Homo sapiens: one gene and its partners. The protein of the gene in region 2 purifies or fractionates together with the protein of the main gene of each other region. This does not show direct contact. Each region holds a gene or a part of one and is shown on either strand. Other genes may lie near its edges. The genes, in order: MYORG, SIAE, COL18A1, TGFBR3, NAAA, CEMIP2 and PLTP.

Evidence for each region.
Region 1: the proteins of SIAE (region 2) and MYORG purify together in Homo sapiens (affinity purification with mass spectrometry; 2 studies listed by BioGRID and IntAct, with this or other methods). This does not show direct contact.
Region 3: the proteins of SIAE (region 2) and COL18A1 purify together in Homo sapiens (affinity purification with mass spectrometry; 2 studies listed by BioGRID and IntAct, with this or other methods). This does not show direct contact.
Region 4: the proteins of SIAE (region 2) and TGFBR3 purify together in Homo sapiens (affinity purification with mass spectrometry; 2 studies listed by BioGRID and IntAct, with this or other methods). This does not show direct contact.
Region 5: the proteins of SIAE (region 2) and NAAA purify together in Homo sapiens (affinity purification with mass spectrometry; 2 studies listed by BioGRID and IntAct, with this or other methods). This does not show direct contact.
Region 6: the proteins of SIAE (region 2) and CEMIP2 purify together in Homo sapiens (affinity purification with mass spectrometry; 2 studies listed by BioGRID and IntAct, with this or other methods). This does not show direct contact.
Region 7: the proteins of SIAE (region 2) and PLTP purify together in Homo sapiens (affinity purification with mass spectrometry; 2 studies listed by BioGRID and IntAct, with this or other methods). This does not show direct contact.

Annotation. Positions count from the first base shown.
Region 1 is NC_000009.12:34,370,399-34,373,898, reverse strand, and holds part of MYORG (myogenesis-regulating glycosidase), read left to right. Parts: intron 1-892; 5' UTR 893-955; coding exon 956-3,100; 3' UTR 3,101-3,500.
Region 2 is NC_000011.10:124,632,613-124,635,739, forward strand, and holds the end of SIAE (sialate O-acetylesterase isoform 1 precursor), read right to left. Parts: 3' UTR 501-3,127; downstream 1-500. UniProt on the Homo sapiens protein: Catalyzes the removal of O-acetyl ester groups from position 9 of the free diacetylated sialate N-acetyl-9-O-acetylneuraminate (Neu5,9Ac2) in the cytosol and of the diacetylated sialate residues of sialylglycoconjugates in the lysosomes.
Region 3 is NC_000021.9:45,464,165-45,467,664, forward strand, and holds part of COL18A1 (collagen alpha-1(XVIII) chain isoform 4 preproprotein), read left to right. Parts: intron 1-3,500. UniProt on the Homo sapiens protein: Probably plays a major role in determining the retinal structure as well as in the closure of the neural tube.
Region 4 is NC_000001.11:91,718,652-91,722,151, forward strand, and holds part of TGFBR3 (transforming growth factor beta receptor type 3 isoform a precursor), read right to left. Parts: intron 3,494-3,500; coding exon 3,304-3,493; intron 1,580-3,303; coding exon 1,242-1,579; intron 814-1,241; coding exon 661-813; intron 1-660. UniProt on the Homo sapiens protein: Cell surface receptor that regulates diverse cellular processes including cell proliferation, differentiation, migration, and apoptosis.
Region 5 is NC_000004.12:75,931,014-75,934,513, forward strand, and holds part of NAAA (N-acylethanolamine-hydrolyzing acid amidase isoform 1 precursor), read right to left. Parts: intron 292-3,500; coding exon 201-291; intron 1-200.
Region 6 is NC_000009.12:71,685,690-71,688,513, forward strand, and holds part of CEMIP2 (cell surface hyaluronidase CEMIP2), read right to left. Parts: intron 158-2,824; coding exon 54-157; intron 1-53. UniProt on the Homo sapiens protein: Cell surface hyaluronidase that mediates the initial cleavage of extracellular high-molecular-weight hyaluronan into intermediate-size hyaluronan of approximately 10-5 kDa fragments.
Region 7 is NC_000020.11:45,909,356-45,913,375, forward strand, and holds the start of PLTP (phospholipid transfer protein isoform a precursor), read right to left. Parts: upstream 2,801-4,020; 5' UTR 2,724-2,800; intron 2,109-2,723; 5' UTR 2,098-2,108; coding exon 1,998-2,097; intron 1,897-1,997; coding exon 1,797-1,896; intron 1,640-1,796; exon of another isoform or gene 1,516-1,639; intron 716-1,515; coding exon 587-715; intron 317-586; coding exon 161-316; intron 1-160. UniProt on the Homo sapiens protein: Mediates the transfer of phospholipids and free cholesterol from triglyceride-rich lipoproteins (low density lipoproteins or LDL and very low density lipoproteins or VLDL) into high-density lipoproteins (HDL) as well as the exchange of phospholipids between triglyceride-rich lipoproteins themselves.

The DNA of each region.
Region 1 (3,500 bases), on a different chromosome or scaffold from region 2:
TTTGGGTGTCTTCTTCAATCTCCAGACTTCATCAGGCTTTTGACTCAGGATAAAAACACATCCCTGAGCTGTTCTCCCTTCCTCCCTCCTCTCCCCCTCTGGGGACAGGGAAGCTAGCCTACCGCCCTGTTAAAAGTCTCAAGGGGGACTGGGCGAGGTGGCTCACGCCTGTAATGCCAGCACTTCTGGAGGCTGAGGCAGGTGGATCACTTGAGGTCATGAGTTCGAAGCCAGCCTGACCAACATGGTGAAACCCTGTCTCTACCAAAAATACAAAAATTAGCTAGGTGTGGTGGTGTGCGCCTTTAATCCCAGCTACTCGGGAGGTTGAGGCAGGAGACCCGCTTGAACCCAAGAGGCAGAGATTGCAGTGAGCTGAGATCATGCCACTGCACTCCAGTCTGGGTGACAGAGAGAGACTCCATTTCAAAAAAAAAAGTCTCAAGGAGCTGGCTGGACAATACCCCCTCTCCCACCCTGACCATCCACACCTCTAGGAGAGCAGGACTTTTCTAGTTCCTTTCCCGTCTCTTCAGCCCGAACGGCCCCATGTGTGATCTGGGGAGGCCTGGCTTATCCTGTGATCCTGGAAAGCTTCCTGACCCTCTCAGGGTTTGTTTCTCCACTAGGAAAATGAGGATGGGTGCCATCTCCCAGTCACATGGGCCGCTCCCCAGTCACAGAGTCCTAATTTGGGCAAGCATTAGGTCCCATGAGAAAGGGTGGGTTAGGCACAGATTGTCCTGGTAAGGGTCTCACCTTTGCCACTCTTCAAGCCCTCAGGTTCCAGTATTCATCTTCCCAAAGTATACACCTCCTCTTAGCTTGCGGCAGCAAATGGAAATATCATGGGATGAGATAGCTCAGTTCCATCTCTGTCTCCTCCTTTCAGAGCAGGTTGAGATGAACTCAGTCAGATGGCCCCACGGCCCGCTCCTTTCTTAGCAGCCCACTAATGCTCCAGAACCCTCAGGAGAAGAGCCAGGCCTACCCCCGCCGCCGCCGGCCTGGCTGCTACGCATACCGTCAGAACCCCGAGGCCATCGCAGCCGCAGCTATGTACACCTTCCTGCCCGACAACTTCTCACCTGCCAAGCCCAAGCCTTCCAAAGACCTGAAGCCGCTGCTGGGCTCCGCGGTTCTGGGGCTGCTGCTTGTGCTGGCCGCGGTGGTGGCCTGGTGCTACTACAGCGTCTCCCTACGCAAGGCGGAGCGACTTCGCGCGGAGCTGCTGGACCTGAAAGCTGGCGGCTTCTCCATCCGCAATCAGAAGGGAGAGCAGGTCTTCCGCCTGGCCTTCCGCTCCGGCGCGCTGGACCTTGACTCCTGCAGCCGCGATGGCGCCCTGCTGGGCTGCTCGCTCACGGCCGACGGGCTGCCGCTGCACTTCTTCATCCAGACTGTGCGGCCCAAGGACACGGTCATGTGCTACCGCGTGCGCTGGGAGGAGGCAGCGCCGGGCCGGGCCGTGGAGCACGCCATGTTCTTGGGCGACGCGGCGGCCCACTGGTATGGTGGCGCCGAGATGAGGACGCAACACTGGCCCATCCGCCTGGATGGCCAGCAGGAGCCCCAGCCGTTCGTCACCAGCGATGTCTACTCCTCCGACGCCGCGTTTGGGGGCATCCTCGAGCGCTACTGGCTATCTTCGCGCGCGGCCGCCATCAAAGTCAATGACTCAGTGCCCTTCCACCTGGGCTGGAACAGCACGGAGCGCTCGCTGCGGCTTCAGGCGCGCTACCACGACACGCCCTACAAGCCACCCGCCGGCCGCGCCGCAGCGCCAGAGCTGAGCTACCGAGTGTGCGTGGGCTCAGACGTCACCTCCATCCACAAGTACATGGTGCGTCGCTACTTCAACAAGCCGTCAAGGGTGCCAGCACCCGAGGCCTTCCGAGACCCCATTTGGTCCACATGGGCGCTGTACGGGCGCGCCGTGGACCAGGACAAGGTGCTGCGTTTTGCCCAACAGATCCGCCTGCACCACTTCAACAGCAGCCACCTGGAAATCGACGACATGTACACACCTGCTTATGGCGACTTCGACTTCGATGAGGTCAAATTCCCCAACGCCAGCGACATGTTCCGCCGCCTGCGCGACGCCGGCTTCCGCGTCACGCTCTGGGTGCACCCTTTTGTCAACTACAACTCGTCGCGCTTCGGCGAGGGCGTGGAGCGCGAGCTGTTCGTGCGCGAACCCACGGGCCGGTTACCTGCGCTGGTGCGCTGGTGGAACGGCATCGGCGCGGTGCTAGACTTCACGCACCCAAAGGCCCGCGACTGGTTCCAGGGACACCTGCGGCGGCTGCGCTCTCGCTACTCCGTGGCTTCCTTCAAGTTCGACGCGGGCGAGGTCAGCTACCTGCCGCGGGACTTCAGCACCTACCGGCCGCTGCCGGACCCCAGCGTCTGGAGCCGGCGCTACACTGAGATGGCGCTGCCCTTCTTCTCGCTGGCGGAGGTGCGCGTAGGCTACCAGTCACAGAACATCTCCTGCTTCTTCCGCCTGGTGGATCGCGACTCTGTGTGGGGCTACGACCTGGGGTTGCGCTCACTCATCCCCGCGGTGCTCACCGTCAGCATGCTGGGCTACCCATTCATCCTACCCGATATGGTGGGCGGCAACGCCGTGCCCCAGCGGACAGCCGGCGGCGATGTGCCCGAGCGCGAGCTCTACATTCGCTGGCTGGAAGTGGCCGCCTTTATGCCGGCCATGCAGTTCTCTATCCCGCCCTGGCGCTACGACGCGGAAGTGGTGGCCATCGCGCAGAAGTTCGCCGCCCTGCGGGCCTCGCTTGTGGCACCGCTGTTGCTTGAGCTGGCGGGCGAGGTCACCGACACGGGTGACCCTATCGTGCGCCCCCTTTGGTGGATTGCGCCCGGCGACGAGACAGCTCACCGTATCGACTCGCAGTTCCTTATTGGGGACACGCTGCTTGTGGCCCCGGTGCTGGAGCCAGGCAAGCAGGAGCGCGACGTCTATTTGCCCGCCGGCAAGTGGCGCAGCTACAAGGGTGAGCTTTTCGACAAGACGCCGGTGCTGCTCACCGATTACCCGGTCGACCTGGATGAGATCGCCTACTTTACCTGGGCGTCCTGACCCAGCCCAGGGCCCGGTAACCGCAAAGCCCCCAGTCTTCATGCAGACCTTGAACCCTCCGTCACACCCGCACCATGTACTCCCAGGAACCTCCCACCTCTATACCACCCATTAAGTGGCTGCTGACTTAAATGTGCTGGAACCAGCTGCTGAAGGTGGGGCCTAGGGAGGGGGCACTGAAGCAATCTCCTGCTCCAACGCACAATCCTTACTGTGCCCTTTCCACCCCCACACTCACACCAATCTGCAGAAACCTCTTCCCTGGGGTGGAAGCCAGAGAGCTTAGAGGAAAAAGGTCAGCTCTCTTCCTGTTATACATGGTTATACATGGTTGGGGTTTAAAAGCACAAAGAGAAACCTCCCCCTCCTGGCTTTCGTGGCCATCTTTGTCCATCTTAGG
Region 2 (3,127 bases):
GATGCTGGGAAGTCCAAGTTCAAGGAGCGCAGATTCAATGTCTGGTGAGGGCCCACTTCCTAGTTCTTAGACAGCTGTCTTCCTGCAGTGTCCTCACGTGGTAGAAGAGGAAGGCAGCTCTCCGGGGTCCCTTTTATAAGATCACTAAGCCGGTTCATGAGAGGTCTGCTCTCATGACCTAATCACCTCCCAAAGGCCCCACCTCCCAATACCATCACATTAGGGGTTAGGATTTAACATGAATTTTGGGGACATATAAACATTAAGTCTGTAGTAGCAGCAGCTGACTAACGAGGGAGATAGGGAGATTCTGACAAACTTCTACTCTTGATTGTGATCCTAATTCAAGGAATATCAAGTCCCAGCCCCTGCAACCCAGGCTGCTGCTTAATTTTCATGTCAGTATCATCAAAATCCAATGTTCTGCTTAAACTCAAGATGGAAAGTCCAGTCCAAGGTACACTGTTCATCTTTTTCTTCACATTTTGCACATCCTTCAAGGGGATCTTTAACCTCTTTAACCTTTGTATTGCACCTCAGATAATGTGCTTTTTAGCTCAGTACACTGAAACCATATGATAACACAAATTCACATATAATTGGGGGTTAGTCCCATACTCTATAACAGACTTAGTCCTGTCTTTTCATTAGCCATGTAATAATATAACTCCATGTTCCATGCAACTGGATTTTTGGACCCTGTTAATAGCATTAAGGTAGAGGTTTACTCTATCACCTAACACCTCAACACTACCTGTGGGATGCCTTAGTTACCCAGCAGCAGGTTACCAAGGGCTGTCTGGAAAGGGAGGGACAAAAGGACCCAGAAGTAGAAGAATGGGGATGGAGTGGTGAGAATTGAATGGTTAATGCACTGCCATTCATAATTGCCAATTGAGGACAACACAAATGGGATTGGTACTTTATAGTAATAAATCTGACCAGCAGAGGGAGGGATCAGGCAGCAGTGTTTAGAGCACACCACACTGGCCACTGTAAACTGAGAAGCTAAGTTAACTGGTATTTTATGATTTTGAGTATAGTCTTTTTATAAGTTGTATACACTTTACAATGTAAAAGAAACAAACTTTGTATAATAGCAAATCGGGAAGGGGACTGCTTAAAATGTTAATGCAGTGTTTTTCTTTTTTTCTCTGCATAAATGGCTTGAGCATACTGGCATTTACACAGAAATGATATATGCTGCTTTTATCATATAACAAATATTTTCCCACTATTACAGCCTGAGTAATACCCGTATTAAAAGAGCCTCATTTTAGAAAGACATTTAAAATTTTTGGAACATACCACATGTAGAAAGGTTGAACTGGTTTTTCAGCTATAATGCATATACAACTATAGTGTGTACGTATACCACATATACATATACTTGTATGAAGATATGTGTAAAATGTTTTTACTATGGATCATGGATTTAAGAAACTTGAAAAGCTGGGCACGGTGGCTCACGCCTGTAATCCCAGCACTTTGGGAGGCTGAGGCGGGTGGATCAAGAGGTCAGGAGATCGAGACCATCCTGGCTAAGTCGGTCTCTAATAAAAATACAAAAAATTAGCCAGGCGTGGTGGCACGCGCCTGTAGTCCCAGCTACTCGGGAGGCTGAGGCAGGAAGAATCGCTTGAACCCGGGAGGCAGAGGTTGCAGTGAGCCGAGACCGCGCCACTGCACTCCAGCCTGGGCAACAGAGCAAAACTCCAACTCAAAAACAAAAACAAAAACACCTTGAAAAACACTGCCTTAGTATACTTAAACTATCTTTTCATCTATCAGATTGTTAAGGATTTTTTTTAAATTTGACAACATCCAGTGTCAATGAGGGTGAGGGCAAAAAAAGGACTACCTTGGTGAGAATGTAAGTTGTTTAATCCTTTGGGAGGGTTAAGCTGTAGATATCTAAATTTTAAATATATATTTATCCTCTTCCATGTTAAGAACCCTAAGAAATAACTGGACGAGTGTGGTATGATGTTTGCATGTGATATTCATTACAGTATTATTTTAATAGTAGAAAATTGTTAAAAATCTATATGTCCATTAATAGGAAATTGGTTAAATAAAATGAGGCTTCCACAAACTGAAACACTCTAAATCTATATTCTATTATTTACATAAGAAAATTATTTTGGTAAAGTAAGTAAGTCAAAAACACAGATTACAAAATAATATGTACTGTATAAAATTATATAACTCAAGTCAAGTGAATGGTTCAGCAAAATAGTGTTTCTCTGAATGATGAATTTGGGGGTGATTTTTACTTGCTTATACTTTAGTGTCCAAATTTTCTACAGTGACTATAAATTTCATTTTAAAACTAAAAAGTTCTTACATTTGGGGAAATGCAGTGAATTCCCACATCATGTTTTAAATTACTCAGCCACTAAAAATGAATGTGCATGGCGTCATTAACATAATCATTGCCTGAACCGTATTTTTCACACTATGTACTCTAGGTTCCTGGAGGTGAAAGGAATCTGGACTTAGAGTTCTTGGCTACCTCTGGCTGCCCCCGAATTAGAACAGCCCATGGGGGTATGTGTATTGGGAGTGGAGGAGTGGACGGGTAGATTGACTTTTTCTCAGGCATCAATCTGTTACAAGGTTCATGGTTTCTATGGGGCCAGATGCATGAGAGGTCAAAGCATGGGCAATAGGGGTTAACTGAACGAGTTGAATGCTAGGAAGTCCTCAGGGGAGCCAACGTTCCTTGTAAAGTGTGTAGATTTTTTGTTTTTTAACTAAATAAAATCTTGGCACTGACAAAGTTATTCCTGCTGTTTGGAGCTACACCAGAACCCCTTGGAACTCTACAGAGGGGTAGAACTAAAGCAAAAACCATCATTCACCCTACAGAGTATTATAAATTTCATTTTCACACAGTAAAAAGTTCCTAAATTGGGGGAAACATAGTGAATTCCACATAATGTTTTAAATTATTCAGCCACTAAAAATAAATTTACATATGATTTCATTAATATATTCACTATCTAAACCATATTTTTTACACTACGTAAAATACATTGTATATGTACAGTGAGTGATGCTTTTTGCTTTAGTTCTCATTTTTCACATTAAGGGGAGGAAAGCTACCCATAGATAGTATTCTTAC
Region 3 (3,500 bases), on a different chromosome or scaffold from region 2:
GTAGCACAGTGCCCAGGCACTGGGGCAGAGGTGGATCCCGTAGTCCCTCGGTGGGAGCTCCAAAGCCTCCCGTTTTCATCTCTTCCTCTTCCCAGGATGGGATTTTGGGGATGAGATCTTCCTGGTGGGCTGGAGTCTGTCCCAGAAGTCAACAGCCCAACCTGGGGCCAAAAAAGACCCTCTTAGATAAGGCAGGCCCTCGGCAAGACTCCAGCCACACATGAGAGGGTGGAACAGAGCTCCTGAGTCCCACTAACCACGGCCACCTGCAGTGGTCAGGTGGGGGCACCGTGTCCATCCCCCCATGGGTTTGTGCCAATTTGCATATAGGTATGTAGCTTCCTATTGGCGACTGTAAGAAATTGCCACAAATTCAGTGGCTTAAACCAACACAGCTGTCTTACCTTTCAGTTTTGGAGGTCAGAGTCTGAAACCAGTTCACTGGGCTGAAACCAAGGTGTTGTCAGGGCTGGGTCCCTCTGGGACTCTGGAGGAGAATCTGTTTTCTTGACTTTTCCAGCCTCTAGAGGCTGCCGCTTCCCTTCGCTCAAAGCCCCTTCTTCCCCCTTCAAAGCCAACGGTGTTGGACAAGTCCTCATGGTGCCATCTTTTGTCCTTCGATTTTAAGGCTTTGTGTGGTTAGAAGTGGATCATCTCCCATCTCCAGGTCCACAGCCTGAGTCCCAGCTGCAGCATCCCCTTGCCACGTAAAATTACGCTTGTGGGTTCCAGCTGTTGTGCCGTGGACATCCTTGGGGCCATGGCTCTGCCCACCACAGTTTGTCCATGTGCACGGCTGCACATGTGTACATATGCATGGGAGTCTTACTTTGCATTAATGGGATTGCCCTGTGTCTGAAAGTTCCTCTTTCCTTTATCCTGCATCTCAGGAGTCTCCATAACTCCAGGGAGATGCTCTGCTCTTCGTGTTGTTCTGGTCTTTTCCTCAGCCCTTCCTGACTGAAGCACTCGCAGGTATTTCTGCTTCTCTGTATAACAGATGACCCTGCAGACACCTGCTCAGCCCCGACTGGCGGGTTCATCGCACAGCCTCGCCTTTGTTTATCAGACACCAGCTGAGCCACCCCACCTGTGCCTGGCGTGGGTTTTGGGTCAGCGCTGACGGTGGAGAGATTGAATGTTGTAAACGTGTCCGAGTGTCAACAGGAAGTCTCCACCCGGGGACAGGGGCCCGTTTCTTAGGTTGTTTTTAGCCTTCCGTGGGGGCTCTGCAGCCTTGGGATTTGGTGGAGGTGTTTGTTCTGAGGCCGTTTTTCTTTGATGCCAAGATGTCCCCCCGGGCACTTCACTGCGTAAGTGCTATGGTGTGATGGAGTGATGATGGTGGCGCACTCTTCAAGCTCTGGATCAGGTTCCGGAAGCTCTGTGTGAGTCTTACTGAGGTGGTTATTTTCTCTTTTCCCTGGAAAGTGGGCTGAGAGCACTCCATGTGGGCACGAGCGGCCCTGGCTCTGCAGGACTGGAGGGGGCTGTGCTGGAGGGCGGGGGGCTGGCCAGGCAGCCTTGGATCTTGTCCTCAGGAGCCCTTCAAAGGGGCAGCAGAGACTCCAGGCCCTGTGCCCCGAGGAGTCAGGCTGGGCTGGTTCTGGGGAGTGTCTGGAGCACCTGATGCTGAGCACAGGCGGGCGTCCGTGGAGTGCACGTGTCTGAGGGTCTCTGAGGGGTTTGCCCTTTTCTTCGGAGCCACGGTGGCCGTGAGGGATGCAGGACATTGGGTGTGGCCCTCGAGGACTGGCCTGTCTGGAGCCCACTCCCCCGTGGGTGAACGCGGCTCTTGGTGGAGAGCCCAGTTTGGGGAGAAGGGACGGTCTTGTCCTGGGAGGTGTCAGACAAAGCCGAGCATGGGACTCACAGGAGACCCCCAGTCAGGCCGTGTCAGGGTGAGGCTGGGAGTGAGGGTCCTGGAAAGTCCGGCTTCTGGGAGAGGGCGCTTTGGCTCAGAGGCTGCCACTGCAGAAGGGATGGACGTCCCCGGTCCCCTAAGATAAGGGACCCAAGGGGAGGGGCGGGGACGTTCCACACTGGTGTGAGAACAGCGGAGAGTCCCAGCCAGAGGTACCCGCTGCTCTCCTGCGGGGAGGATGCTGGCTGCACTGTCTGTCCTGGGCATATTTAAAGGGGCCTCTGTTAACACACACAGGCCTCCAGAACCATCCACACTTCTGGCTGGCCTGATTCCTGAGGGGGAAATGGTCTTTAAAGAAGCAAGCACCTTGATCCAAAGGGAGGTGGTCCAGCAGGAGGGGCCGCCCCACCATACCCAGGAAGGTTGAGCTCTCGCACCCGGGAAGGCTGAGCTCTCGCACCCGGGAAGGCTGAGCTCTCGAAATGGGGTTCAGGCATTTGCTGTTTGATTCCAGGACATCTGAGACAGCTGGGCCTGTACCTCGGGGAGTGGAGGCTGCGCCATTCTCTGCCCATCCAGCATCTTAGGGCCGGGCATTTGGAAGCTGGCTTCTGAAGGGAGCCCCCAGGAGCTTCGTGGAGAGGAGACGGGACAGCTTTGGAAAGGGCGTTGCTGTCACTGGGGTCCCTGGGGCCGCCGGTGTAGCGTGCTGGTACCCTCCAGCCCAGGAAGGTGGCAGCTGCCGCATCTTGCTTTCCCAATGACGGAATGTTCTAGGAAGGGTGGTGGGAGGTTTCTCCAAGGTGAACGCGGGGGCAGCTGGGTGGCTGGCACGGCCTCTGGCCCCCAGGCCGAGTCCTGTTTCCTGATCTTATCACAGCCCCAGCTTGGACATGTGGGACCAGGCACTTCTTATGAGAAAAAGGATCATTGTAACAGCTGCCATCTGGATGGACGATCATTGTAACAGCTGCCATCTGGGTGGACGGCGGCCTCTGTCTGAGGGGGATGTGACCGCTGGCCCCCAGAGCCCAGGCTCAGCCCGTTGGGACCCCTCTGCCCCTGGCCCAGACTGTGGCTGCAAAGCCCGGGCTCTGCCTGGCACGGCAGGTGTGCTGGGAAGTCACTCTGAGCAGGGTCTGCCCTTGAGTGGGTGCTGCCCCCCTCCCGTGGGCAGGAAACGAGGTGTGAGAACTCTGGGCACCGGGGCTGCGTCCTGGCTTGGGCTCCCTGGGCGAGGGATGGACAGGGCTCCTTCTGACCCTGGGCTACTGAGTCGAAGTGAAGTCAAGCTCCGCCTGGGCAGGAATGAGTGGAGTGAGTCACCCGGCGCTGTGGGGCATTTGCACGGAGCAGCGGGGCTGGTGGGGAGACTGTGGCACGTTGGCAGGTACGTCAGGCATGCAGCCCCTCCAAGGGGTGATTGTGGCCCCGAGGGGAATCAGCATGGGGGGGATGGGGAGATACAGCTTGTCCTTGCCACATGAAGCACCTGGCCCAGCAGGTGAGCCGGTGACCGACAGCGCTGGGTGAAATCCCGCACCGTGTCCTCAGATGCCACGTGGAACCCCAGCTGAGGCAGCCACTCTGGGCGACGCCCCGTAGCCGAGGCTTCGAAGAACACTGGGGTGTG
Region 4 (3,500 bases), on a different chromosome or scaffold from region 2:
AAAGATTTTGACCAACTGAGAAGAAAGATTTCTGGAAAATGCAGCTTAGCTATTGCAACGGTTTATCATTGGGGGAAATCTGTGGAATCTTTCTCCAAGTAACTTCAAAAGTAGGAGAGTTTCTTCAATGTATGGTCTTTCTTAGAGGTGGAGAGAGACTTAATAATTCCTTAAAGGTCCTTTTTGAGTTTTAAATTCTCTTTTTGGATTTTTATTCATGAAGGAGGGAGAAGTTCTCCTACTTCTGGACGAGACTCAAATGAGGCCAGAGAGACCACACATCTGGTTAACCCGGCTGTGCAGAGGTGCTGCTCGTTCATATAGCCCAGGGCCTTAAAATTTTATCCTTATAAGGGCCAGTTGAGCTTGGGCACTGAGAGAAGTCATAATCACCTTGACAGTGCAGCCTTTGTCATCAGGAGACGGAAACGGGGGGTGAGAAAACAGGCCTTCCAATTCCCAAAGACTCACCAATAAAACAAATAAAACCAAAGAGCTCAGGGTCAAAGTACATCCATTTTGTTGAGAACTGACACTTGGCTTTCTTCAGGCCTGGGGTGAAAACCCTCTTCATCTTCAAAGAAATGTTAAGACTAACTTTAAGGGAGCACACAGCCAGGCTCTGGCAAAGGGCAAAGCTTTGTTCTGGAAAACACTCACGGAGTTATAGTAGACCACACCATCAAGGGCTGACCACCGGGGCCGAGTACCGCAGCCATTCAGAGGAGACTCCAAAACAAAGTGTGTGCCATTCATCTTGGCCTTGCAGGTAGGATCCAACAGGGTGACGTCCATCCCCGAGTAGCCACTGGCCTAAAACAACAACCACCAAAGACATGGTTGGAGGCCCACAGGCAGTTCTGTTGTATAATTGACACAATTGACAATTGCCTGGTCTTCCAAGGACAGGCGATGAGAGGCCTGCATCGTGCCCCTTCCCCAAGTATCTCTTCCCAGCTGCCCACCTCTCAACAGCTCAAGGGTAGTATCTGTTGGCCTTGGAAATTCAATAGCAAAATATTGACACACAAGGATCTGGAACCCCCACCCCCTGTCACTGAGAACAACAGGAACCAGGTGAGAATCACAGCCAAGGGGAAGTAGGCCCATCCAACTGAGAAAACAGTATCAAGCCTCCGGAGTTCAAAAATGAAAGAGATAGGGAGAAATTACAGATGCAGACTAGGGCCAGATGGGAAAGGAGGTAGCCTCTCTTCCCTCCTGTAATCAGCTGCACCGACCTGAAAAGAATCTTTTTCTACAGCCACGATCATCTTCTCATTGTCACATTTGACAGACAGGGCAATATCCACGCTCCCTTGCACCTCTTCTGGCTCTCTGAGACCAGGAAACAGTTGTATGCTGGGAATGACAGGGTCCTTTGGCCGAGGGAGCCCATCTTCTCCCTCTTCATTCCAGACTCTCCTGGAAATATCTGGGAAAGGAAACGGAAGGCCTCCATTTTGGCCTTCCCCTCCCCGGATGGGCGGGTTCTGCAGGGCAGGCAGGGCACCAGGGTCCAGCAGGATCCGTAGCTCAGGAGGAATAGTGTGGACTTCCTCATCTCCCATCTCCTCTGCTGGTGAAAGAAGAAGGCAAAACATCAGCAGTGTTTGATGCCAGGCCACAACCAACATCATTACAGGCAGAACAGGAGGAATTAGCATAGAATGGGCAGGTGTAAAATGACTTTTAATAAGCAGTGCATAAAGGTCATTAGAAGTCTAGAAGCCTGAATTCTAGTCCTGGTGTTCTCTCTAACTAGCTCAGTGGCTTTAGGCAAGCGGCTTGCTTCTCTGTGCCTCAAATTTGCTTTTCCAATTTTTTAAATTAAGTGGTTGGAAATGATCAGTGGTTCTTAACTTTGGCTACACATGAAAATCACTTGGGAGCTTTAAAAAATATTCCTACGCCCAGGTTGTACCCCAAACAATTTAAACTCAGACTCTCTGGGGTGGTACCCAATCATTAATATGTTTTAGTCTCTCCATGTGTAACTGCAATGTGCACCTAAGACTGAGAACCAATGGAACAGACAGTTTCTAAGGCTGTCCAAGCTAGAAAAATCTGTGATTTAAGTTACATGATGCAATATTATTCCATTGAAATGCCACTAAAATACTTTCCTTGAATCAAGAGAGTCTTTTGAATAATTTCTCTAATGATGTCTTGAAACAATATTGGTATGTTAAAATTACTTCACCACCTTCTTTTTGACAGCTAAATTTTAACAGGTATCTGGGCACCTTGGCCTTTTGGAACATATTCCCTTGAAAGATAAGAAATAGCTGCATAGATACATTTATTCCTTCAAAGGGAGAGACGTATTTCCATACAATCAATACTCAATATTTTGTCGTATTTCTAACAACTAAAAAAATAATAATTTCCCCAGTATTCTTTATATCTACTATCTAAGGCCAACTGATGTACACTTGAGGTCAAATCCATCTCAGTGGAAGCTGGAAGTGAAGATGATAGTTGGACATTATCTCTCCTTTAATAATATTCTTTGGAAAGGACGCTAGAGCTGTAAGGGTCCAAAATAAGTCATAGCTTTGTAGGGTTTTTAATTTGTACTTTCACGAAAACCTTCACAACAACCCTGTAAGGTCTGTCCTATTATTTTCCCCTTATTACTGAAGAAAAATCTGTGGCTCAGAGGTGAAGCAACTTCTCCCCAAACAGTGACTAAATGGTAGAGCTGGGGCTTGAACCTGTACTCCTAATCCTTATTCTATTGGCATTTCACTCAGTGGTGGTACCATGAGCTGAGGAACAGGTCTAGGGATCACAAAACTAGGGTTTCAAGTCATGCTAGCTAGAAGACTCCAGAAAACCTCAAGAATTTGTTGACCCTCTGCTTTCCACCCCATTCAGCTGGGGTAGTAACTCCTGCCATCCTCTGGGTATGAACACTCAAGTATGAGTCCTCGTGACTATTTTCCTAAAAGATACAGCCTTTTACCATGAACTTCTTTCCTGCAGTCTTAACTCTTCTGTATTCTCAGCCATAAGTGGTCATTAGGTGTCTCGGAGAGAAGAACCTAATGTAATCACACTAAAGATAACCTATAACAAAGTTCTCTGAATATGCATTCAACTCTATGTCACTGAAAATCTGTATTACAGTTTCCTCAAAATCTCTGTCTAGGTAATTTTAAGCCTTCTGATAAAAAGTAGTCAAATTATTAAAATGTACAAGAGAAAAACAGCAACATATAAGCTGAAATGACAGTTCCTCACTGGAAAAGCTTCATTTGGGGGGTATTTTTTACATAACTTAAAAAACTTCTAACTTACCATTATTTTCAAGCCGAAGATGAAATCTATTAGCCACAGGAGCCATTGTGTATGAAGTTATTGGACTATAGCCATTGTCCAAAGCCCACTTCACCAGATTCCCTTGGGTTGAAGGAATGTCATCTCTTATTGATTTGGTCATTGTCATAGATCTTTCACTCTCTTTTCCAAAGCCAATACTGTTAGGAGCCTGAAGA
Region 5 (3,500 bases), on a different chromosome or scaffold from region 2:
TATTTTGCTTTCTTTGCAGCACTTATTGCTACCTGAAATCTTCATTGCTTCCATGCATACTGTCCACTTTCTCCCCCTAGGATGGAAGTCCCTGCCACATAGTGGGTGTTCTGTATATTCTGTTGGGTGAGTGAAGGAAGTGCTTGGATAGAACTGAACAATAATGTAGCTAAAATTACACAGGGGTTTGTTTTGATTACCTCGTTCATCACCAGAAACTGTAAACTTGTGTGGGCTCTGGCCAGTCCATAATCCTACATAGCCAATAAAAGTAGTTCCTGTGAATGCAATCTGAAATCAAGAGATAACATGGATCATTTCACCATTCCAATCAAATACACTGAAATCACCTGTTCTGCCCCACAATTTTCTGGATTTTTTTTCTTATAAATTCCAACACAATAGAATAAAACTCTGAAATAGTCTTCTAAGACAGAGGTTCTTAACCTTAAGCTGGGGTGGGTGGGGGTGTGGTCCATAGATAGATTTTAGTAGATTTGTGACCTTGGATGGGAAAAAAAAAGATGCATCTTTATTTTCACTAACCTCTAACTGAAATTTAACTCCTTCTATAATGAATGCATGCAACAAATCACACAATCATAGTGGTGCCTATAATTTTGCCACTAGTAGAAATCACAGATATTTTCACATACACAATGTTGGCTGCAGTTATTTTGAAACACTATCCATAATTTACTACTTTGAAATCATGGTAGTTATTAGACCCCCTGCTAAACCTTACTATTTAATGTGTTAAGAAAAAGTATAACATTGAAATGGCTGTTTTCAACACAACTGATTTTTTTTGTAATCCTACGTATTTTATTTTATGTATTTATAAAACAGTATTCACCAAAGGGGTGCACAAAGCAGGTTAAGAAGCCCCATCCTAGAAGTAGCAAGTGGAGTCTTACTTTAAAACTTGTTTTGAAGCCAGGAGCAGTGGCTCACGCCTGTAATCCTAGCACTTTGGGAGGCCAAGGTGGGCAGAACACCTGAGGTCGGGAGTTCAAGACCAGCCTGACCAACGTGGAGAAACCTGGATTCTACTAAAAATACAAAATTAGCCGGGCGTGGTGGCACATGCCTGTAATCCCAGCTACTAGGGAGGCTGAGGCAGGAGAATCACTTGAACCCGGGAGGCGGAGGTTGCGGTGAACCGAGATAGCGCCATCACACTCCAGCCTGGGCAACAAGAGTGAAACTCTGTCTCAAAAATAAAATAAAATAAAATAAAACTTGTTTTGATTTGATTATAAGAGATGAATATCACATATTTTATAAGCTCTGTGAAGTTAGAATATCAAAGTGGGACTGTTCACCAATAATAATCACATTTAAATTTTAAATATTTAAAAATCCTTTAACAAAGCTCTTTCATTTAATCCTCACAACTATCCCATGAATTATAGGCATCACTCCTACTTTAAATTAAGGTCACAAGCTCCAGTGATTGCAAGATACCACTATGTAACCTGCAGGAGAAAAATCAAACTCTGTATGTCACCGAGGCTGGAGTGCAATGGTGCAATCACGACTCACTGCAGCCTCGACCTCCTGGGCTCAAGCAATCCTCCCACCTCAGTTTTCCAAGTAGCTGGGACCACAGGTGCATGCCACCAAACCTGACTGATATATAAATATATACAAAATTTTTTTTTGCTTTTCCTAAAGACAGGGTCTCCCTATGTGGCCCAGGCTCGTCTCAAACTCCTGGGCTCAAGCAATCCTTCTGTCTTGGCTTCTCAAAGTGCTGGGATTACAGGTGTGAGCCACCACAGCTAGCCTTTATCAGTTATTTCTGATACCAAATTTTATTTTTCAAAGAAGTACTTTGGCAAGGCATGGTGGCTCACACCTGTAATCCCAGCACTTTGGGAGGCCAAGGTAGGCGGATCACTTGAGGCCAGGAATTTAAGACCAGCCTGGCCAACACGGTGAAACTCCAACTCTACCAAAAATACAAAAATTAGCTGGGTGTGGTGGCACGCACCTGTGGTCCCAGCTACTCGGGAGGCTAAGGCAGGAGAATCGCTTGAACCCAGGAGGTAGAGGTTGCCGTGAGCCAAGATTGCACCATTGCACTCCAGCCTGTGACAGAACAAGACTCTGTCTCAAAAAAAAAAAAAAAAAGTACTTAAAACAGTATCTGACTCATACTGTTCAATAAAAGTTAACTAATACCATTATGTTTTAAGAAATAGATAGTCCTAGATTGATATTTTCCTTAGAAAAATTAGGTCAGTAATGTTTTTCATTTAATTATTTATTTTTACCTTATCTGCTTGTAAAAATAATTTAAGGTGGCTGAATTACAAGGGAGAATGCAGTGTCCTTAGCTTTATAAATGACCTCAGCCCTCAGACTTACTGAGGACCTCCATGAATGTCTCATCTCCACGCATGGTGGTAAAGCAGAAATAAGTCTTCCTTACTACTCAAATGTAATTATATGGAAAATAAAAAGTAATTATATGGCCACCTCATTTGCGTGACACCGTGATCGTCAGGGTCACTCTTGGAGGGCTGAGAAAATTGAAGTTATGAGATCAAAAGTCACATCGTAGTTTTCAATTACGATACATAATTATAAATAATTTTGAGATATAATTTGTAAGATATTTTATCTTGCAGCTCTGAAAATCTGTCTTTACTTCTGTTTGTACTTCCCAGTTGTTTCTGCCTAGTCAGTTAACATAAACAAACCCTTAGCAGGGAATTTTAAGTTACAGCCTGGTGCCTGGTGCGGTGGCTCAAACCTGTAATCCCAGCACTTTGGGAGGCCGAGGCGGGTGGATTATCTGAGCTCAGGAGTTCAAGACCAGCCAACATAGTGAAACCCCATCTCTGCTAAAAATACAAAAATTAGCCGGGTGTGGTGGCACCCTCCTATAGTCCCAGCTACTTGGGAGGCTGAGGCAGGAGAATTGCTTGAACATGGGAGGCAGAGGTTGCAGTGAGCCGAGATCGCGCCACTGCACTCCAGCCTGGGTGATAGAGCGAGACTCTGTCTCAAAAATAAAAACAATAGTAGTAGTAATAATAATAATAATAATAATAATAATAATAATAATAATAATAATTTACAGCCTAATTAAGGCTGTAAACAAAAACTATCAGTAGGCCTAACGCCTGGGTTCTGGCCCTACCTCTGCCATGTCTCTAGAGGCCTTGTGATTCGGGGCAAGTCAGTCTCTGTGAAGCTGGGCCCCCTCATCTAGAAAGTAAAGATTAAAATGTTGACTTATGCCTGCTTCACAGGGCTGCTGGGGGGATCGAATGAGGTCCTGTGTATGATAATACTTTTGTTGTTGTTGTTGAGATGGAGTCTCACTCTGTCACTGGGCTAGAGTGCAGTGGTGCGATCTCAGCTCACTGCAACCTCCGCCTCCCAGGTTCAAGCGATTCCCCTGCCTCAGCCTCCCAAGTAGCTGGGATTACAGACACCCACCCACACGCCCAGCTAATTTTTTTTTTTTTTTTTTGTAGTTTTAGTAG
Region 6 (2,824 bases), on a different chromosome or scaffold from region 2:
TTACCTATGTTGCTGGCCCTGTAAGAACTTCATGAAATAATACAAATACAAACCTTTGTCATAAAGATGAGCTGGTTTGGCTAATCCCAGAGGTACTAGTAAGTGTGAAATGTTTAACTGCTTTATTTCTCCTCTTGTGCTCAACAGAACAATGGACCTGTATGTGAAATTTAGAAAGTCAGAGCCAATTTCAATCCTTCAGCATGAGTATCTTTCTACTGAGTATCTTTCTGAACTGACTGCTGAATAGAAATATTAGATAAAAGCAGAACTCCAAAAAGAAAAAAGTCTAGATGATTTTCCATCCAATTCCCACTCTTCCACCCCACCACCATGGGCTTCACACGTTGCTCTTACAAGGGGTAACGCATACATAAACCAAATCATTTACGTACGTTCACCTAGTGCAGGGCTTCCCAACCCCTGGGCCATGGATGGGTACCAGTAGATTAGGAACCAAGTTGCACAGCAGGAGGTGAGCAGGCGAGCGAAGCTTCATCTGTATTTACAGCCACCCCACAACACTTGCATTACAGCCTGAGCTCCGCCTCCTGTCAGGTCAGCTGTGGCATTCAACTCTCATAGGAGCAGAACCCTATTGGGAACTGCACATGTGAGGGATCTAGGTTGTGTGCTCCTGAGAATCTAATGCCCAATGATCTGTTGATCATCACCCCCAGATGGGACCATCTAGTTGCAGGAAAACAAGCTCAGGGCTCCCACTGACTTTACATTATGGTGAGCTGTGTAATTATTTCATTATATATTGCAATGTAATAATAATAGAAAAAAAGTGCACAGTAAATGTAATGTGCTTCAATCATCCTGAAACCATCCCCCTTCACCTCCAGTCCATGGAAAAATTATCTTCCATGAAACCAGTCCCTGATGTCAAAAAGGCTGGGGACTGCTGACCTAGTGGATGGTCTGGGGCACAGCTCTTTTAGGGAATAGTCTATTGTTGTTGTTGTTGTTTATAATTTGTATAAATTTGTGAGGCACAAGTGCAATTTCATTACATACATAGGATTGCATAGTGGTGAAGTCAGGGCACTTAGGGTATCCATCACCCAAATAATGTACACTGTGCCTATTCAGTAATTTCCTGTCATCCACCCCTCACCCTTCCTTCTCCATTGTCTATCAGGGAGTAAGTCTACTGTAACATGGGAGAATGGTTTTGTTTTGTTTCAAATACTCTATTTATTTAAGTTCTATTATCTATTTATTAAATAAATGGATAAACACAATTCTAAAAATAAATAAACGACTAAATGTGTTTTCCATGGTTTGAATTACCATTTTTGTCACATAGTAAGCCAACATACATACTTGGACCTATCTGTGGATTCTCCGTTCTTCTCTGATCTTGCTCTTCTCTGCCAAAACTATGCTGGCCTATGGCTTCACGGTCCATTTTAATATTTGATAAAAACAAGCCCTTGTATTACTGTAATTTGTTTATATTTTACTACTTTCTCATTTATTCTTCCAGATGAACTACAGTATCAACTGTCAAGTACAGTAGAAAAGTACCTTTTGGGACACTAATGGAAATGTGTCAAATTTATATTTTAACTAAGTAAATGTAATGCACTTGAATCATCCTGAAACCATCCCCCTCCACCTCCAGTCCATGGAAAAATTATCTTCCATGAAACTGGTCCATGAAATTAACATTTATTAATTTTCCATTCAGAAACAGAGTCTCTCCTTTTATTCAACTTCTGTTGCATATCCTTTAGCAATATATTTAATAATGTATTTATTTTCTGTGTGTGTGTGTGTGTGTGTGTGTGTGTGTGTACACATACAAACTCACTCTTTCAAAAACTTTAATCAGAAATGTTCTTGGCCAGCCGGGTGCAGTGGCTCATGCCTTTAATTTCAGCACTTTGGAAGGCTGAGATGAGAGGATCATTTGAGCCCAGGAGTTCAAGACCAGCCTGGGAAACACAGCAAAACTCCATCTCCACAAAAAATTAGAAAAATAATAAAATTAAAAACAAAAACAAAAACAAAAAATAACCAGCCAGGCTGGTGGTGTGCACGTGTAGTCCCAGCTACTTGGAAGGCTGAAGTAGGAGGGTCACTTGAGCCTGAGAGGTCAAGACTACATTGAGCTGTGGACACATCACTGCACTCCAGCCTGGGCAACTATTTTTGTTTTCTTTTGTTTTTTTAGAGATAGGGTCCTTGCTCTGTCACCCCAGCTGGAATGCAGTGATGCAAGTATAGTTTACTGCAGCCTCAAACTCTTGGGCTCAAGGGATCTTCCTGTCCTAGCCTCCTCAGTAGGTGAGACTACAGGTATGTGCCCACATACCCAGATAATTTTTAAATTTTTCATAGAGACAGGGTCTCATTACATTGCCCAGGCTAGTCTTGAACTCCCGGCCTCAAGCAATCGTCCCGCCATGGCCTCCCAAAGTGCTGGGATTATAGGCATGAGCCACTGTGCCTGAACTCTTGGCCGGTATTACTGAAACAAAAATTTTCAAGAACAAATCAGTGTTTAGGGGGCTCTGAGTAGCTCTTATTAATTAAAAGGTAACATTAGATTGATTTATTTTCAGAGTCATCAAGGATACCTACAGGAAGTTGAAATTTGTGTGGTATGTCTTAATGTGGGTCTCGATGGTTCTTAAGATTAAGTACCTTAAGTTTCATGCTGGTATGGGTTCTTTATGGTAGTCTTTCTTTCTTTCTTTTTTTTTTAGAGACAGAGTCGCGCTCTGTTGCTCAGGCTGGAGTTCAGTGGTACAATCTTGGCTCACTGCAAACTGCCTCCTAGGTTCAAGCAGTTCTCCTGCCTCAGCCTCCC
Region 7 (4,020 bases), on a different chromosome or scaffold from region 2:
AAGCTTCAGTGACTTGGCCACGTTCACACAGCCAGGAAGTGACAGAGCTGAGCTTTGGACCCAGTTGGTCTGATTCCCAGGCCTATGCACTTTGCATTGCGCTAGGCAGATGAGCTGTGGGGCTCGAAAAGGGTGAGCTGGGGTTGGGGCTGGGGCTTACTTGAAGGTTCCCCCGAAGGCCGCGTGCATTCTGGAGACAGAGGCCTGGCAGGAGACATTGGACACTTTCATCCGTCCAGCGGGATCCCGGGAGAGCTCCAGACCAGTGCGGATGGACACACCCTCAGCTGAGGCGTTGATGTAGCCCCCATCATAGCTGCCAGGGGGGTTAATATTCACTCCAGGTAGGAGCTCAATTGAGTCTTCAGTGCCCCCATGCATCACCATACCTCTTAATAAGGTTTCACCTCTTTCCACACATCCTACCAAACCTTCCTATCAACTCGTATGAAATGCATATGCCTGTTTCTGTTACACAGATGAAGAAACGGAAACTCAGGAAGGCTAAGGGGGCTGCCCACAGCCCCACAGCACCTCCAGCCCTCCTGACCCACTCTCCACTCCCCTGAGGGTGCTGGGTCCTTACAAGAACCAGTAGAGCAGCTGTCTCCGGAAGCGCAGCCCCAAGGAGGCATTGGTGATTTGAAGCATCAGCTCCTGCTGTGGCTGGAAATCGAGCTCGGAAGATGTCAGTTGCAGCTCTGTGACCTTCACCCTACAGGAGGCCTCAGGGTCAGATCCAGGGCCAAGAAGAGGGAACTTCCCCCAACGACAGGAAATTTGTCTGCTCCCCTTTCAAGTCCAGGCCTGGGGAAGCGGGAGTGGGTGGAATGAATTCTTCCATTGTCCCTCAAGTGCCCAACTTAGACTTGGGTGGCTCAAAGTTGAACTTGGGTGGCTGAGAGAGGAGGTCTTCCTGATCCAGGTGTTAAAAATGAGCTTCACCCCATCGCTTAAAAGTCTTGTTTGTTTGTTTGCCAGGTGCGGTGGTGGCTCATGCCTGTAATCCCAGCACTTTAGGAGGCCGAGGAGGGCGGATCACTTGAGGTCAGGAGTTCGAGACCAGTCTGGCCAACATAGTGAAACCCGTCTCTACCAAAAATACAAAACTTAGCAGACCGTGGTGGCACGCGCCTGTAGTCCTAGCTACTCGGGAGGCTGAGGCAGGAAAATCGCTTGAACTCGGGATGCGGAGGTTGCAGTGAGCCAAGATCGCGCCACTGCACTCTAGCCTGGGCAACAGAACAAGACTCCCTCTCAGAAAAAAAAAAAAAAAAAGTCTTGTTTGCTTGCACCCCCTCCCCTCCCACACCCTGGGGTTGCTACACCCGGTCTTTTAATAGAGTCCGTTCACTTTGCCTCCATCACCTAAGCTCCGTCTCACATCTCAATTCCTTATTCCCCCTCCCTCATCCTAAACCATACTTAGAGCCTTCAGTTTCTCCACCCCTCCGATTAACTCCACCCCGTGCCCGAGACTCCACTCTCATCTATTGGGAAGTTCCTTGACTCCACCTTTCTGTTGTTCTTCGACCACGCCTCACATCCACTGGTCCTGCTTCCTTCTTGGCCCCCTCTACATTTTCAAGGCCACGCCCATCTGCCTGGTCCCGCCTATGATGACTGGCTTGGCCTTTATCTTTTCGGCCCCATCCGGTTTCTTAAGTCTTGCCTCATCGATTTGGCCACGCCCCATCCCACTCAGCCTCCAGTCTCCCGAGACCCTGAGATTTCTCGGGCCCCGCCTCCACCGCCGAGGCCCCGCCCCGGATCGCGAGGCCCCGCCCCCCACTTACTCAGAGATGTTGTAGTAGAAGTGGCCTTCTTTGCCCCGCAGGTCCGGAATGGTGATAGTCTCCAGCTCTTGCTCCAGAAAGCGCAGCCCCTCCTGCTTCACTGAAGCAGCAGAGAAACCCTTACTTAGCTCCCGTGCCCACTGTTGGGGCGACCCCAACCCCGTCCGCTCCCGTCCGTCCCTGTCTGCCCCTGCGCCTTACCCAGCTCCAGCGCCTTGGAGGTGACGCGGATCTTGCAGCCTGGGAACTCTGCATGTGCGCCTGCCAGCAGCGCTAGGAAGAGGGCCCCGAAGAGGGCCATGGCGAGCGGGCCTGGGGGTGGGGTGGGGTCGCAGGAGTTATCTGAGCCGCTTAAACCCATTCCTTGGACGTCCAACCATAAGTGGGAACTAGCCTGGATCGTTACCCTCCAGATAACTCTTCGGGGAACTTGGAACCAATAATCTTGCCTCCATATGGCAGATGTGGAAACTGAGGCTCAGAGAGGCGATGCGACTTGCGTTCTGGCTCCCAGAGGATTTGGGACACGGGGGAGGGGACGTTCCCAGTTCCCTCGTGCTACCGCCGCGTGATGAGTTTGGACCTCCAGGGGACCAGCCCCCACACCCCCAACAACCTCCCCTTTCCTTTAGCGGTGGGCCCATGCAGGCTTGCACGTTGCCACGGCAACGACTGCACGCGCATTCTTGGAGGGTGGCTTGCGGTCTCCTAGGCCTCGCGCCCGGGGAGGAGAGGAGGTGGCCGACCAGACCGTGGGCTCCCGGGTCTCCCGGCTCCCTCAGGTCCTAAATCTCTCCCATTAGAGATTCTGCCTGGAGCCCCCATGTTAGCGTTCTCCTTCATCGGCTCTCCTCCCCACGCCGGCTTCAGTGCACCACGCGGCTCGGCGAGGGACTGGGAACGGGATAGGGACGCGCCCCAACTCACTCAGCGGTGGAGCTGGGGGGCGGCGCGGTCACGTGGGATGGCGGGCAGCTCAGGGGATCCGGGCGACGGGGTCTGGCGGGCAGGGTTGTTCCAGCCGCCTTTATAAAGCCGGCCTCCCCGACCCCTCCTCCTCTCTGCAGCTCTCCCCTCCTCCCTTGGGGGCTGGGAGGGGACGGGGCGGGACGCTGGCAGCCGGGAGAGTGGAAAAGGCTGCACAGAGCCCCGTGACAAGCCCGGCCGCTGTCTGGACAAGTGGGAGACCCAAGCCCAGGGAGAGGGAAGGAAATGCAGGAGCCGGCCCACTCAGCCCCAACAATCCCACTTTGCTGGGACCTTGGTTCAAATTACAATTATCCATGTCTTCCTGCATGATCTTGGGCAAGTCACTTCACTTGGGTCACTGACCCTCAGTTTCTTCCTTCAGCGAAATGTGCACGATGATAGGAACTACCTCTTGGGCCTTTATTACAACCAGGTCCAGGCACAAAGTCAAGGAATATTTTTTCTTTCCCTGCCACCCACAATCATCTCGGGACCTCCTTGCCTGGCTTTGCTATGGGCCCCCCTACCTGTCTCTGTGTCACCACCTGGGGACCTTAAGGTCCCAGAGACCTTTCCCACTTGGGAAAGCAAGACTAGACAAGTGCTGTCAGCCCAGGAACATACCACACCGGCTGAAATCAGAAGGAGGTCTGCCATTTATCGTGGCTGGTGGATTGTTTTTTCTATTTTTTTTATTTTTATTTTTTGAGACGGAGTCTCGCTCTGTCCCCCAGGCTGGAGTGCAGTGGCGCGATCTCGGCTCCCTGCAAGCCCCGCCTCCCGGGTTCACGCCATTCTCCTGCCTCAGCCTCCCCAGCAGCTGGGGCTACAGGCGCACGCTGCCACGCCCGGCTAATTTTTTTTGTATTTTTAGTAGAGACGGGGTTTCACCGTGTTAGCCAGGATGGTCTCGATCTCCTGACCTTGTGATCCGCCCGCCTCGGCCTCCCAAAGTGCTGGGATTAAAGGCATGAGCCACCGCGCCCGGTCCACTGGTGGATTTTTTAATGAACCCTTGGAGCAAGGTGCTCTGAACAGCATCCCCGCCCCCACCCCCACCCCCACCTCCATCTACTGCTTACAGGGTTCCCGGACCCTAGGACAGGGCACAGAGTGGGTGCTTGCCACCTTTTTGTTGCCAAATGGACGAAAGAAAGGGGAAGCAATAATCATGTCTGCTGAGCATGTATTTAGCACCAAACACTCATCTAGGAAGGATGACTAACTCATCCTGATTTGCCTAGGACTTTCCCCA